Homo sapiens: one gene and its partners. The gene in region 3 interacts genetically with the main gene of each other region. Each region holds a gene or a part of one and is shown on either strand. Other genes may lie near its edges. The genes, in order: NDUFB2, GATB and PSMC6.

What was found.
Region 1: changes in PSMC6 (region 3) and NDUFB2 together harm fitness more than expected from each alone (negative genetic interaction), as found in Homo sapiens cells (one large-scale study listed by BioGRID).
Region 2: changes in PSMC6 (region 3) and GATB together harm fitness more than expected from each alone (negative genetic interaction), as found in Homo sapiens cells (one large-scale study listed by BioGRID).

Annotation. Positions count from the first base shown.
Region 1 is NC_000007.14:140,699,589-140,703,241, forward strand, and holds part of NDUFB2 (NADH dehydrogenase [ubiquinone] 1 beta subcomplex subunit 2, mitochondrial precursor), read left to right. Parts: intron 1-3,277; coding exon 3,278-3,422; intron 3,423-3,653. UniProt on the Homo sapiens protein: Accessory subunit of the mitochondrial membrane respiratory chain NADH dehydrogenase (Complex I), that is believed not to be involved in catalysis. Complex I functions in the transfer of electrons from NADH to the respiratory chain.
Region 2 is NC_000004.12:151,701,990-151,705,642, reverse strand, and holds part of GATB (glutamyl-tRNA(Gln) amidotransferase subunit B, mitochondrial isoform 1 precursor), read left to right. Parts: intron 1-373; coding exon 374-458; intron 459-1,747; coding exon 1,748-1,792; intron 1,793-3,653. UniProt on the Homo sapiens protein: Allows the formation of correctly charged Gln-tRNA(Gln) through the transamidation of misacylated Glu-tRNA(Gln) in the mitochondria. The reaction takes place in the presence of glutamine and ATP through an activated gamma-phospho-Glu-tRNA(Gln).
Region 3 is NC_000014.9:52,720,609-52,724,261, forward strand, and holds part of PSMC6 (26S proteasome regulatory subunit 10B), read left to right. Parts: intron 1-252; coding exon 253-373; intron 374-501; coding exon 502-582; intron 583-3,196; coding exon of another isoform or gene 3,197-3,219; exon of another isoform or gene 3,220-3,266; intron 3,267-3,356; coding exon 3,357-3,428; exon of another isoform or gene 3,429-3,432; intron 3,433-3,653. UniProt on the Homo sapiens protein: Component of the 26S proteasome, a multiprotein complex involved in the ATP-dependent degradation of ubiquitinated proteins.

The DNA of each region.
Region 1 (3,653 bases), on a different chromosome or scaffold from region 3:
GTGACCTCGTCATTAGCCTTCCCACCTTGGGTGGGCCCCAGGCTGCGTCTCTTTCCCCACACCTCATGTAGCTATCCTGGTGGAGGTTCAAGGGCTCCCGGTGAAGGCAGCTTCAGTGATTGATTGCTTAGCTTCCAGGCCTTGTTTTTACTTGAATTTTGCTCTTGGTGGATTCCTTCCTTTTGTGCCTGGTCAGTGATGTTTGTAAAAATCTTAAAAATCTCATCTAGCAGCAGAGTTGTTAATTTGGAGGGTTGTTCAGGGTATCTAGTTTGCCACAATGCAGTTCACAACCTGGTTTGGAACATAACATTGTGAATTAGGTGTTGAGTCTTTGCATTCCTTAATCATGGCAATCCTTGTCATTGTTCCTGTGATATAATTGCAGACTTTCAAATCTTTGTTCCAAAAGGTTTCCATTTTGCAGTCCCTACTTCAGGTTATGATTAAAACAACATGTCACTCTAGCAATAACGAAGCGTGGGGAGCTGCTAAGATGGGTTTGAACTATAATGCTGGCATCGGCATTACTCAGATCTTTTTTGTTTTTTTGATACAGAATTTCGCTCTTGTTGCCCAGGCTGGAGTGCAATGGCACGATCTCAGCTCACCACATCCTCTGTCTCCCAGGTTCAAGTGATTCTCCTGCTTCAGCCTCCTGAGTAGCTGGGATTACATGCATGTACCACCATGCCCAGCTAATTTTGTATTTTTAGTAGAGACGAGGTTTTTCCACGTTGGTCAGGGTGGTCTCGAACTCCCGACCTCAGGTGATCCGCCTGCCTCGGCCTCCCAAAATGCTGGGATTACAGGCATAAGCCACCGTGTCCGGCCTTCAAATCTTGTTTTAATCAGTTTTACTGCTGGGCACTTATACCTAGATTGTATCAAAAAGCTATCAAAGAAGAAGGCTCTTGGCCGGGCACAGTGTGGCTCACGCCTATAATCCCAGCACTTTGGGAGGTCAGGGCAGGCGGATCACCTGAGGTCAGGAGTTCGAGACCAGCCTGGCCAACATAACGAATCCCTGTATCTACTAAAAATACAAAAATTAGCCGGGCATGGTGGCACATGCCTGTAATCCCAGCTACTCGGGAGGCTGAGGCAGGAGAATTGCTCGAACTGGGAGGCAGAGGTTGCAGTGAGCCAAGATTGTGTCACTGCACTCCAGCCTGGGTGACAGAGTGCGACTCCGTCTCAAAAAAAAAAAAAAGCTCTTGTTATACTATATTGAATGATCCTGCATGGTTTATTTACATAATGTAATATCTATATGCACAGCTAGATCCTGAATGAATAATATAATTGGTATATGAGGACATTACGGAAACAGTATGCTACGTCATTCAAGTTGTAAAGTGGCGATATTTGGTAGGACCTTTTAAACATGATACTTAAAAAAGTACATATATACACACATCTGCAAAAACTAAAAATCACCTTATTCATAATTAGTTATTAATACCTTAAATAGAGCATTCCAAATAAAAGTGTTAAATTTTGGATGACTATTTAGAAAAAAAAATGGAATTTATCATTTCAATATGGTAACATTGGTTTTATCATGCTGGTTGGAATTCTAGTTAAAAGTTATGTCTTTGATTAATAAAAGGAGAAAATTGTTAATGGTGTGTGTCTGTAGGCAACAGCTTAGGCTTTGCCATCACACAGCATCTCACTGGTAAATCATTAATAATTACAGGCCTTATCATAACATTATGAAAATTAAATGAATTAAAACTTATAAAATGCTTAGTGTGGTATCTGGCACATGGTAAACACTCAATAACTACCAGTCATCTTTTAGAGTGGGGGAGGATAAAAACAGTCTGCCAGCCTGGCAACATAGGGAAACCCTGTCTCTACAAAAAAAATATAAAAATTAGCCAGGTCTGGGGGTGTACACTTGTATGTAATCCCAGCTACTTGGGAGGGAGGCTGAGGCAGGAGGATTGCTTGAGCCCAGGAGGTGCTCAGTCAGCAGAAGGATCGCTTGAGCTAAGGTCACGCCACTGCACTCTAGCCTGGGCGACAGAGCCTATCTTTAAAAAAACAAACAAAACAGCCGGGCACGTGGCTCACGCCTGTAATCCCAGCACTTTGGGAGGCCAAGGTGGGTGGATCACCTAAGGTCAGGAGTTCGAGACCAGTCTGGCCAACACGGGGAAACCCCGTCTCTACTAAAAAAAAAACAAAAATTAGCTGGGCATGGTGGCGTACACCTGTAGTCCCAGCTACTTGGGAGGCTGAGGCAGGAGGATCGCTTGAACCCAGGAGGCGGAGGTTGCAGTGAGCCAAGATTGTTCCATTGCACTCCAGCCTGGGTGACAGAGTGAGACTCTCGCAAACAAACAAACAAAGAAAACAAACAGTCCTAGCTAACATGTATCAAGAACCACTGCCCTGTTACTGTTCACGAATCTGTGCATTATGAAGACAAGATATTTTAATGCACTTTTCCTACAGGTACGAATTTCTGTGCTACATAAAAGAGAATATGGTTTACAAGCTGATTCTTATCTAGATGAAATTGGTAAACATATTTTATATAGGAATTCTCTTAAAAATTTTTTATCCACTTCTGTTTATTAGCATATATATGGCTGATGAATAGGTTTTAGGAATAGCCCCAGTAGGTGCAAATAATTTAAATTAGATGCAACGTATAATATTTATACTCCAACTGAATAAATTGACTATAACTCTTATGGACTCTGTGCCACAACTTGTCAAGTGTCTGAATGAAAAGAAGAAAAAAGAAACACGTATTCAAACTTACTGTTTAAAGTTCTTTGTTCAGAGCCATTAGCATATTTAATAGGATTTGCGAGTCCTCTCTCCCATATGGTTGTCTTTTAATAAAGATTGTAATAGGCAGAGGACATAATTTGCCTCAAATAGATAGCTAAACAAAGCAAAATTAATTTATTTTTCTGAGTAAGTTAGTGACCTGCTAACAAGTTCACAGTCCCTTAACTAAAACCTTTGGGGCTAGCACCCCAGAATCAACACATTCAAATTTCTAGTGCAAAATAATGAATCTTCACTAATTGAAAACCAAAATTAGCCTCTTGTCAGTTTTGGTCAGTTTTTGCTGCTACACATGAAGCAAGCTTAGTAAAAAGTGAGTATTTCAAGGGATTGTGAACTTCTGTCTATATTTCAGTGGAGATGAGAAACATTAGCGTTGGTTCTAGGATGTAACTCAGAGGAGTTTTGGATGACTTAACGCTTTGAGAATGTAGCACGCTGTCTGCCATGTTGTTTTGTCTTGCAGTGCCGGTGGTGGTGTGCACATTGAGCCCCGGTATAGACAGTTCCCCCAGCTGACCAGATCCCAGGTGTTCCAGAGCGAGTTCTTCAGCGGACTCATGTGGTTCTGGATTCTCTGGCGCTTTTGGCATGACTCAGAAGAGGTGCTGGTAAGTGCAGGAGAAGAGCACTTGTCGTTTTTTGGGTGGGGGAGGGAGGATGTATTAATAGCTTGTTTATTTTTCTGTTGTAGACCATTTTTCTGTCTGGACATCGCCCTTTGCCACCACTTTTTCCATATGTATATACAAGAATCCTGTTATTTAATGAAACATGTTATCTTCTCACCTTTTTTTACACGAGGATGTATATTTAGGTGGTCCGTTTCTTATGGTTTCTGT
Region 2 (3,653 bases), on a different chromosome or scaffold from region 3:
ATACCAGAGCCTTTGAAGCCCATCCCAGACTCCCAGGGTAAGGGCCCTGGGTAGGCAGCAATCTCAGACCGAGATATTGGGCCCAGCCCCACTTCTGCCAAGTCATGTCATCTGCATGGGGTTGCTTAATCTCTCTGAACCTGAATTGTCTCAACACGGAGTGAGCCTGCCTTCCTAAGGCCCTTTCCAACACCAATATTCTACGATGGCAGTGAGAAGGAAATATAGTGTGTAAGGGAAGGATTATTATAAACAATCTTCTTGATTTTTTTTTTTTTTAACTTAGAGATTGAGAAAGGTTGTTTCTAATTATTGCTTGACTGGATGAAAGGTATAATCAAAATATGATGCTAAATTAGTGTGTTTTTCCTAGACTATGAAATTCAGAGGCAAATCAATGAACTTGAGAATGGAGGTGAAATTCTGAACGAAACACGCTCATTTCATCACAAGCTGGGGTGAGTTCGCATTGCTGAGCGTCCTGACCACAGCCGGGGGTGGTGCGAGAGGGCTGGGCTCAGCCACTGACCAGCCATGTGACCTTGAAGGAGGCACGTAGCGTCTCCACTTTTAGGTTTCCTCATTAGTACAATTAGAAAAGTACTGTACCCTTCATGCCTGTAATCCCAGCACTTTGGGAGGCAATGGGCAGATCACGAGGTCGGGAGATCGAGACCATCCTGGCTAACATGGTGAAATCCTGTCTCTACTAAAAAAATACAAAAAATTAGCCGGGCATGGTGATGGGTGCCTGTAGTCCCAGCTATTTGGGAGGCTGAGGCAGGAGAATGGCATGAACCCGGGAGGCGGCGCTTGCAGTGAGCTGAGATGTTGCCACCGCACTCCAGCCTGGGCGACAGAGCGAGACTCCTCTCAAAAACAAAAAAGAAGGCCAGGCGCCGTGGCTCACGCCTGTAATCCCAGCACTTTGGGAGGCCGAGGCGGGCGGATCACGAGGTCAGGAGATCGAGACCATCCTGGCTAACATGGTGAAACCCCGTCTCTACTAAAAATACAAAAAATTAGCCAGGTGTGGTGGCGGGCGCCTGTAGTGCCAGCTACTCGGGAGGCTGAGGCAGGAGAATGGCGTAAACCCAGGAGGCGGAGCTTGCAGTGAGCCGAGATAGTGCCACTGCACTCCAGCCTGGGCGACAGAGCAAGACTCCGTCTCAAAGAAAAAAAAAAAAGAAAAGTACTGTACCCTATAGGGATATAATATACCCTAGGGCTGCCAGGAGGCTTGAAGTGACCCAGACTGTGCCCAAGGGCTTCGTTTTAGGCCCTTTCCTTCTCTGCTTCCAGCTTACCTGCCTTGTGGCAAGAATTTTTACTTCCTTAATCTATCAGATCTTTCCCAGCTGAAGCTAGAGGCGGAACAGAGTGAAGACCTGGTTGTAGAGATGCCTTATTTTTGTTTAGATAACTTGGGCCTTAATTTTCTCACTCAGAATTTTGAGCATTGTATACTTAAAGCAGAATACTGAAAAAAGCTCAAAAGCCGAGTTTGAGCTGGCTGAAAGATGGCTACATTGAAGTCATTTCCTTTAAAAAAAAAAAAAAAAGATCATTCTGTACATTTCGCTTTCTTTATGATTGTTTTTTGAATGTATTCATTTAAGGTTTCCCCATGGAAGTCCACAGAGTTTGATTTTGCCTGTGCCCCTTATTGGTAGGGGAGCCCTTCCCCACATATAGGCTGGCCAGTGCTGCTTTCAATGTTTAATGTTTTCTTATTTAACTATTGCAGGTGCACCATGTCAATGAGAGACAAAGAAGGAAAACAGGACTACAGGTGGTTACTCCTTATGGCAAAATACCGCTATATATCGGGGGCTGGGGCGTATTTCAAGTTCATTTAAAGTTCAACATAATGATCCTGAACAATTTTTAGAAACCACTTTTTGTCATTGTTGTAACATGATGGGACATCTAGACTTCCTCTTTGATATGCATACCGAGAGAAGTACTAGTTTCTTGATTTGGTAGCCTCAGATCTGGTGCCTTGTTTGACTGATTCAGCTTTTGGAAGAACTTGTTCATCCACTGCTGTGTCAAAGTTGTCATAGTTGAGCTAGGAGGATGGCTGTAGAGGTTGGGGCCTAGGCTGTTCTTATTCTAATGTTCAGTAACTGATTCAGTAATACGCTGAATGAAGCTCCTTGAGAAGAAATGAGAAAAGAGATGTTGATAGCGTATGTTGATGGTAGTTCCCTTGAACCTCATATGATGCTATTTCATGATAAATTAAGTTGAACTACTTAATATGAGACCCACAAATAAAGCAAATGCTAAGAACAGGCATAAGATAATTGAAACTTTTATTTTTTTCTCATTGAGTTTAGCAGGTTGAAGTTTTAAGCAACAAAGTTGTGAGATCGGCCACCTTTCCTTTGTGAAGGGCAGAAAGATGCAAATGTAGCTATTATCAATGAGGATCAAAATTTGCATGTTTATGTGGGAAAGAAGAAACTCATAAACGCTTAGCATGAACCTCACCCCAAGAACTCCCATTGTCTGTCTGCTAGAGTCAAAATTATTTTAATTAACCGTGAACTTCCCGGGTGAGTCTGTTCTCCCAGGGGCCCACTTTATTCCTGAGTGTTGCTCCCTCCCCTGTTGGTGCGCCTTCCCCTGAGTGTGGAGTCCGGCTTTCCATCCGCCCGTGGCTTCAGCATGATGCCTCAAATGATAGTGAGCTGCAGGAAGCTTCCCCTGGGTTTCCTCTTGCCCTCAGAAGCCAGACTAACTCACAGAAGAGATCTGGCAGTGAGCCGATGGGTAGCGTGTGCTTCGAATCCATTCCCTCCAAACCACCACTTCTTCTGAATACCCTGCTTTTTCTACATAAGCCCTTTGACAAAAATGGGCAGAGAGTAACCATTAGTGCTGGACGAGAACAGAGGGAGGGACATCTTGTTTCATAAGATTACATGCAATGGTGCAGCTTTGACACTTAAAAAAATTAATTCCCTTCATTTTTTAGAGCAGTTTTAGCTTTACAATAAAATTGAATGGAACGTCCAGAGTTCTCACATACTCCCGCTCCCCACTCTCCCCCCAGAGTCTCCTGTTAATGTGCCACAGTAATGCAAGATGCTCATTTGTTACAATGATGAAACCAATCACACTTCCTTATTGGCTAGAGTCCATGGTTTACACTAGGGTTCCTTGTTTGTGTGGTACATTGCGTGGGTTTTGACATATGCACAATGACATGCATCCACCATCGTGTCACACTGAGAAGTTCCACTGCATGCCCTGTGCTCCACCTCTTCATCCCTCCCTCCCTCTTCTCCAGCTGTCACATTTTGTTTAGGCAAAATCTATTCATTTCTTCTATTTCTCAAGGGTAAATTTTTTTCCTTTCATTTTTTATTTATGTAAATGCTGCTAAAAATAGTAGAAATGTTGAAATGGGGGGAAAGTCATCTTTCCTTCTAATAAGCAAATTGCTCTCATTTGGTCCTGTTTTTTCCAGCCTGTGTCTTTATGAAGACATAGTCCTGCATACATATGGATGTTTCTGTCAACAGTGGATTACGTATGCTACAGGAGTCCCATAAGATTGTCATATGGCATTTTTACCGTCCCTTTCTTGTTCAGACATGCTTAGATACACCAATGCCATTGTGTTACAGTTGCCTGCAGGATTT
Region 3 (3,653 bases):
TTAAAACTACCTGGTAGCTATAGAAAGATACATAGCTATTAAAAGGTACATAATCTAGCTTAGAACTTTGAGGCTAGAAAGTATATCCCTTTATATAAGAGAGAGAAAAAGAATTCTATCAAATGACCATTCTGAAGATAGAACATATCTATCTGTAGACAATACATTTCATGGCATTAGACATATAAAAGGTGTGTGCTATTTTTTTTAATGGTTAGAATTTTTGTAAAATCTGATTCTTAATATTCTTAGTTACTGAATCAAATGGATGGATTTGATACTCTGCATAGAGTTAAAATGATCATGGCTACAAACAGACCAGATACACTGGATCCTGCTTTGCTGCGTCCAGGAAGATTAGATAGAAAAATACGTGAGTTAAGATTCTTTACCTACTGTCCATTTCCCTTTGTGCCCATTTCTTTTTCCATACTTCACTTCACCTTCCACTGTATTTTAAAAAAGATAAAACTGGACTATAAAATAATTTTTTATTTTCAGATATTGATTTGCCAAATGAACAAGCAAGATTAGACATACTGAAAATCCATGCAGGTCCCATTACAAAGCATGGTGAAATAGGTAAGGAAGTCATCTATTTTATATGTATTTACATTTGGTAAATGAAGAAAAATACTTTTAGAAATTACTGATAGTTTCCTAAATCTGGTTTTAAATTCAGCAAATGTGGTGGTTTTAAATTCAGCAAATAGTTATTGAGCATCTACTATAAGCTAGGAACCATTGTAAGTGTTTTGTAAGGGCTGACAATATAGCAAGGAACAAAACAGACAAATTTCTGCCATTAGAGAACTTATATTCTTGTTAGGAAAAAACAGATAAAGTTAGTAAAACAAAGTATAATAGATGATGATAAGTGCTATGGAGAAAAATAAAGCAAGAAAGTGGGGGGCGGGCATGGTGGCTCACTCCTGTAATCCTAATGGTTTTGGAGGCCGAGGCAGAAGGACCGCTTGAGGCCAGGAGTTTGAGGTTGCAGGGAGCTATGATCATGTGACTGCACTCCAGTTTGGCAAGACGCTGTTTCAGGGGAAAAAAAAAGAAAAGGGGGATAGGAAATTAGGGAAGTGCCAGGACCAGGCATGAGGATATGTTTTTAAATGACAGGGAGGATTAGCACAGGGAAGGCCTTACCAAGAAGGTAATTTATTTTTTAGAGACAGGGTCTCACTCTTGCCCAGGCTGGAGTGCAATGGTGTGATCCCAGCTCACTGCAACTTCTGCCTCCCAAGTTCAAATGATCCTCACACCTCAGCCTCCTGATTAGCTGGGACTACAGGCACACACCACCAACCCTGGCTTGTTTTTTTGTAGGGATGGGGTTTCACCATGTTGCCCAGGCTGATCTTGAACTACTGGGCTCAAGCAATCTGCCCACCTCGGCCACCCAAAGTTCTGGGATAACAGGCGTGTGCCACTGCACCCGGCCTGGTTGTTTGTTTGTTTGTTTTTTAAATTGATTCCTGTTAAATGCTGACAATAGGTCAGATAAAGAGTTCTCAGAGTAGACCTTTGGATTTAACTATATGGAGGTCATTGGTAATCTTGTCAAAAGTAGCTTCTTGGGAGTGGTGGAGGTGAAAGCCTATTTCAGATGGGTTTCAGAGAGATTGGGAGGAGAGGCATTGAGTTTAGACATTTCTTTTAAGAGTTCTACAGAGGGGGCAGAAGAAGTAGAAGGGGAATGCCGATGAGGAGTTGGCAGAGTTTTCTATAAGATGGAAGAGTTTATGACCCCCCTGCCCTTTTTTTTTTTTTTTTAATAATGCTACTGGGAATGACCTAGGAGAAAGAGAAATTGGCAATGTTCTTTCCTTGAAGAGGGATTGGCCCTATATATATGTGTACTTTTATGAGACTGGAGGAAAGGCAGAGTACATAGATGCTTATGATGACAGGTTCTTAGATAGTGCAGGAACTTGTGGAAGTGTTTTTTTCTGAATGCTTCTGTTTTCTCAGTGAAGTAGAATGCACGTTCAGAATGAAGATAGGGAAGTGTTCTTAGAGATTTGAGGACAAAGGAGAAGGTATAAAGTCATTATCTATGGAAGTGAGGGATTGGACTAGGGTGCAGGCCAGTAAAACATGGCTTGTGAACCAAATTCTGCCTGCCCTGTGTTTTTGGAAACACACAAAGTTTTGTTGTAACCCAAGCATGCTCATTTATCTGTTGTCTATGGCTGCTTTCCTACTGGAATAGCTGAGTTGAATAGTTACAACAGAAACCATATGGCTTGCAAAGCATACAGTATTTACTCTCTGGCCCTTTACATAAAAAGTTTGCTGACCTCCAGACTAGGGAAATCTAGTATAATTTCCAGGCAGCCTTAAAAACTCTTTAGAAGTTAATGGTCCAGAATAATGACAAATAGCTGATTGTTGAATTTCACTATCTTCATTGCCCCTGTTAGAGAGTTTTGAGCTGGAAAGACCGAACTGAACAAAGGATGTCAATGTATAGGTTTCTTCCACAAATACTGAGCTCTTGCTAGATGCCAGATACTGTGCTAGCCTTGGGAATTCTTGCTCTCAGGAAGCTTACAATGAACTTAAACCTGATTAAAGACAATTCATGAATATATGTGTGATTTCAAATAGAGAACGACATGCCCTATATTGCCTGACCAAACGGTGCATCATCAAAGTTATTCAAACTGTAGTAGCCTGTGCTGTCTTACTTCTCTTCCTATTCTGTATCAGATCCATTGTTGCTACCCCAATCCTATAGCTCTTTGATTCATGTCTGTTATGTGGGTGGATGGAGAACTCACTTTATTACTGCTACCATAGATCTGATACTTCACCACTTGAATCTTGCACAGAAACCAGAGAAGCTAGCTAATGCATGCTGTAGCATTTAAAAATTCCATGTGATACAATTATGTATGATTACATTTCAGTTTTGCTATACTTTATATTTGGCTTGTATGATTAAAGTAAACAAAGTAAATTCCATTGTTATAATTGGTTTTGAGTGTTATAGGTTTATTCAAATCCAAGATTTGATTACAGTTTTGATAAGAGTCACAGCTTAACAGGTATCTGGAGTTCACATGTGCATAGCTATTTCACTGTATAAAAATAGATTAAGATATTTTGAGATTTTGGTGATATTTCCTGTTTTTAAAGTTTCAGGGGTGTGTCTAATTCTTCTTGGTGCTGGTTTATTTAACAGAAGTCTTAGTTTTTGGATATTAATATTGTGGAAAGTTAACAGAGCTGATGTCTAGCTGATCAAACTCAAAGTAAGCTCTTCAGTTTAAATTTTCGATGTGGGCATAAATCAAGTAAAGGTCTAATTTTTAAAACTAATTTCCAGTATTTTTTCTAAACAGATTATGAAGCAATTGTGAAGCTTTCGGATGGCTTTAATGGAGCAGATCTGAGAAATGTTTGTACTGAAGCAGGTAAGGGTTTAAAGTACAGTTTTACTATTGATTTTGATTTTTAAAATTTGCTGAAACTGTTTTGAGTTTATCTGAAAGCGGAGCATAGACTTTGCAAGGATTTGGGTTCATGCTGTTCTTTTAGGAATCGATTCCAGGAAATAGGAGAAGCAGGGCAAGTGAGATGGAAAGAGGGAAAGCTAATATGAGGGTGCACCATTGAGGTAGGTGCTGTAGGAAAGGGAG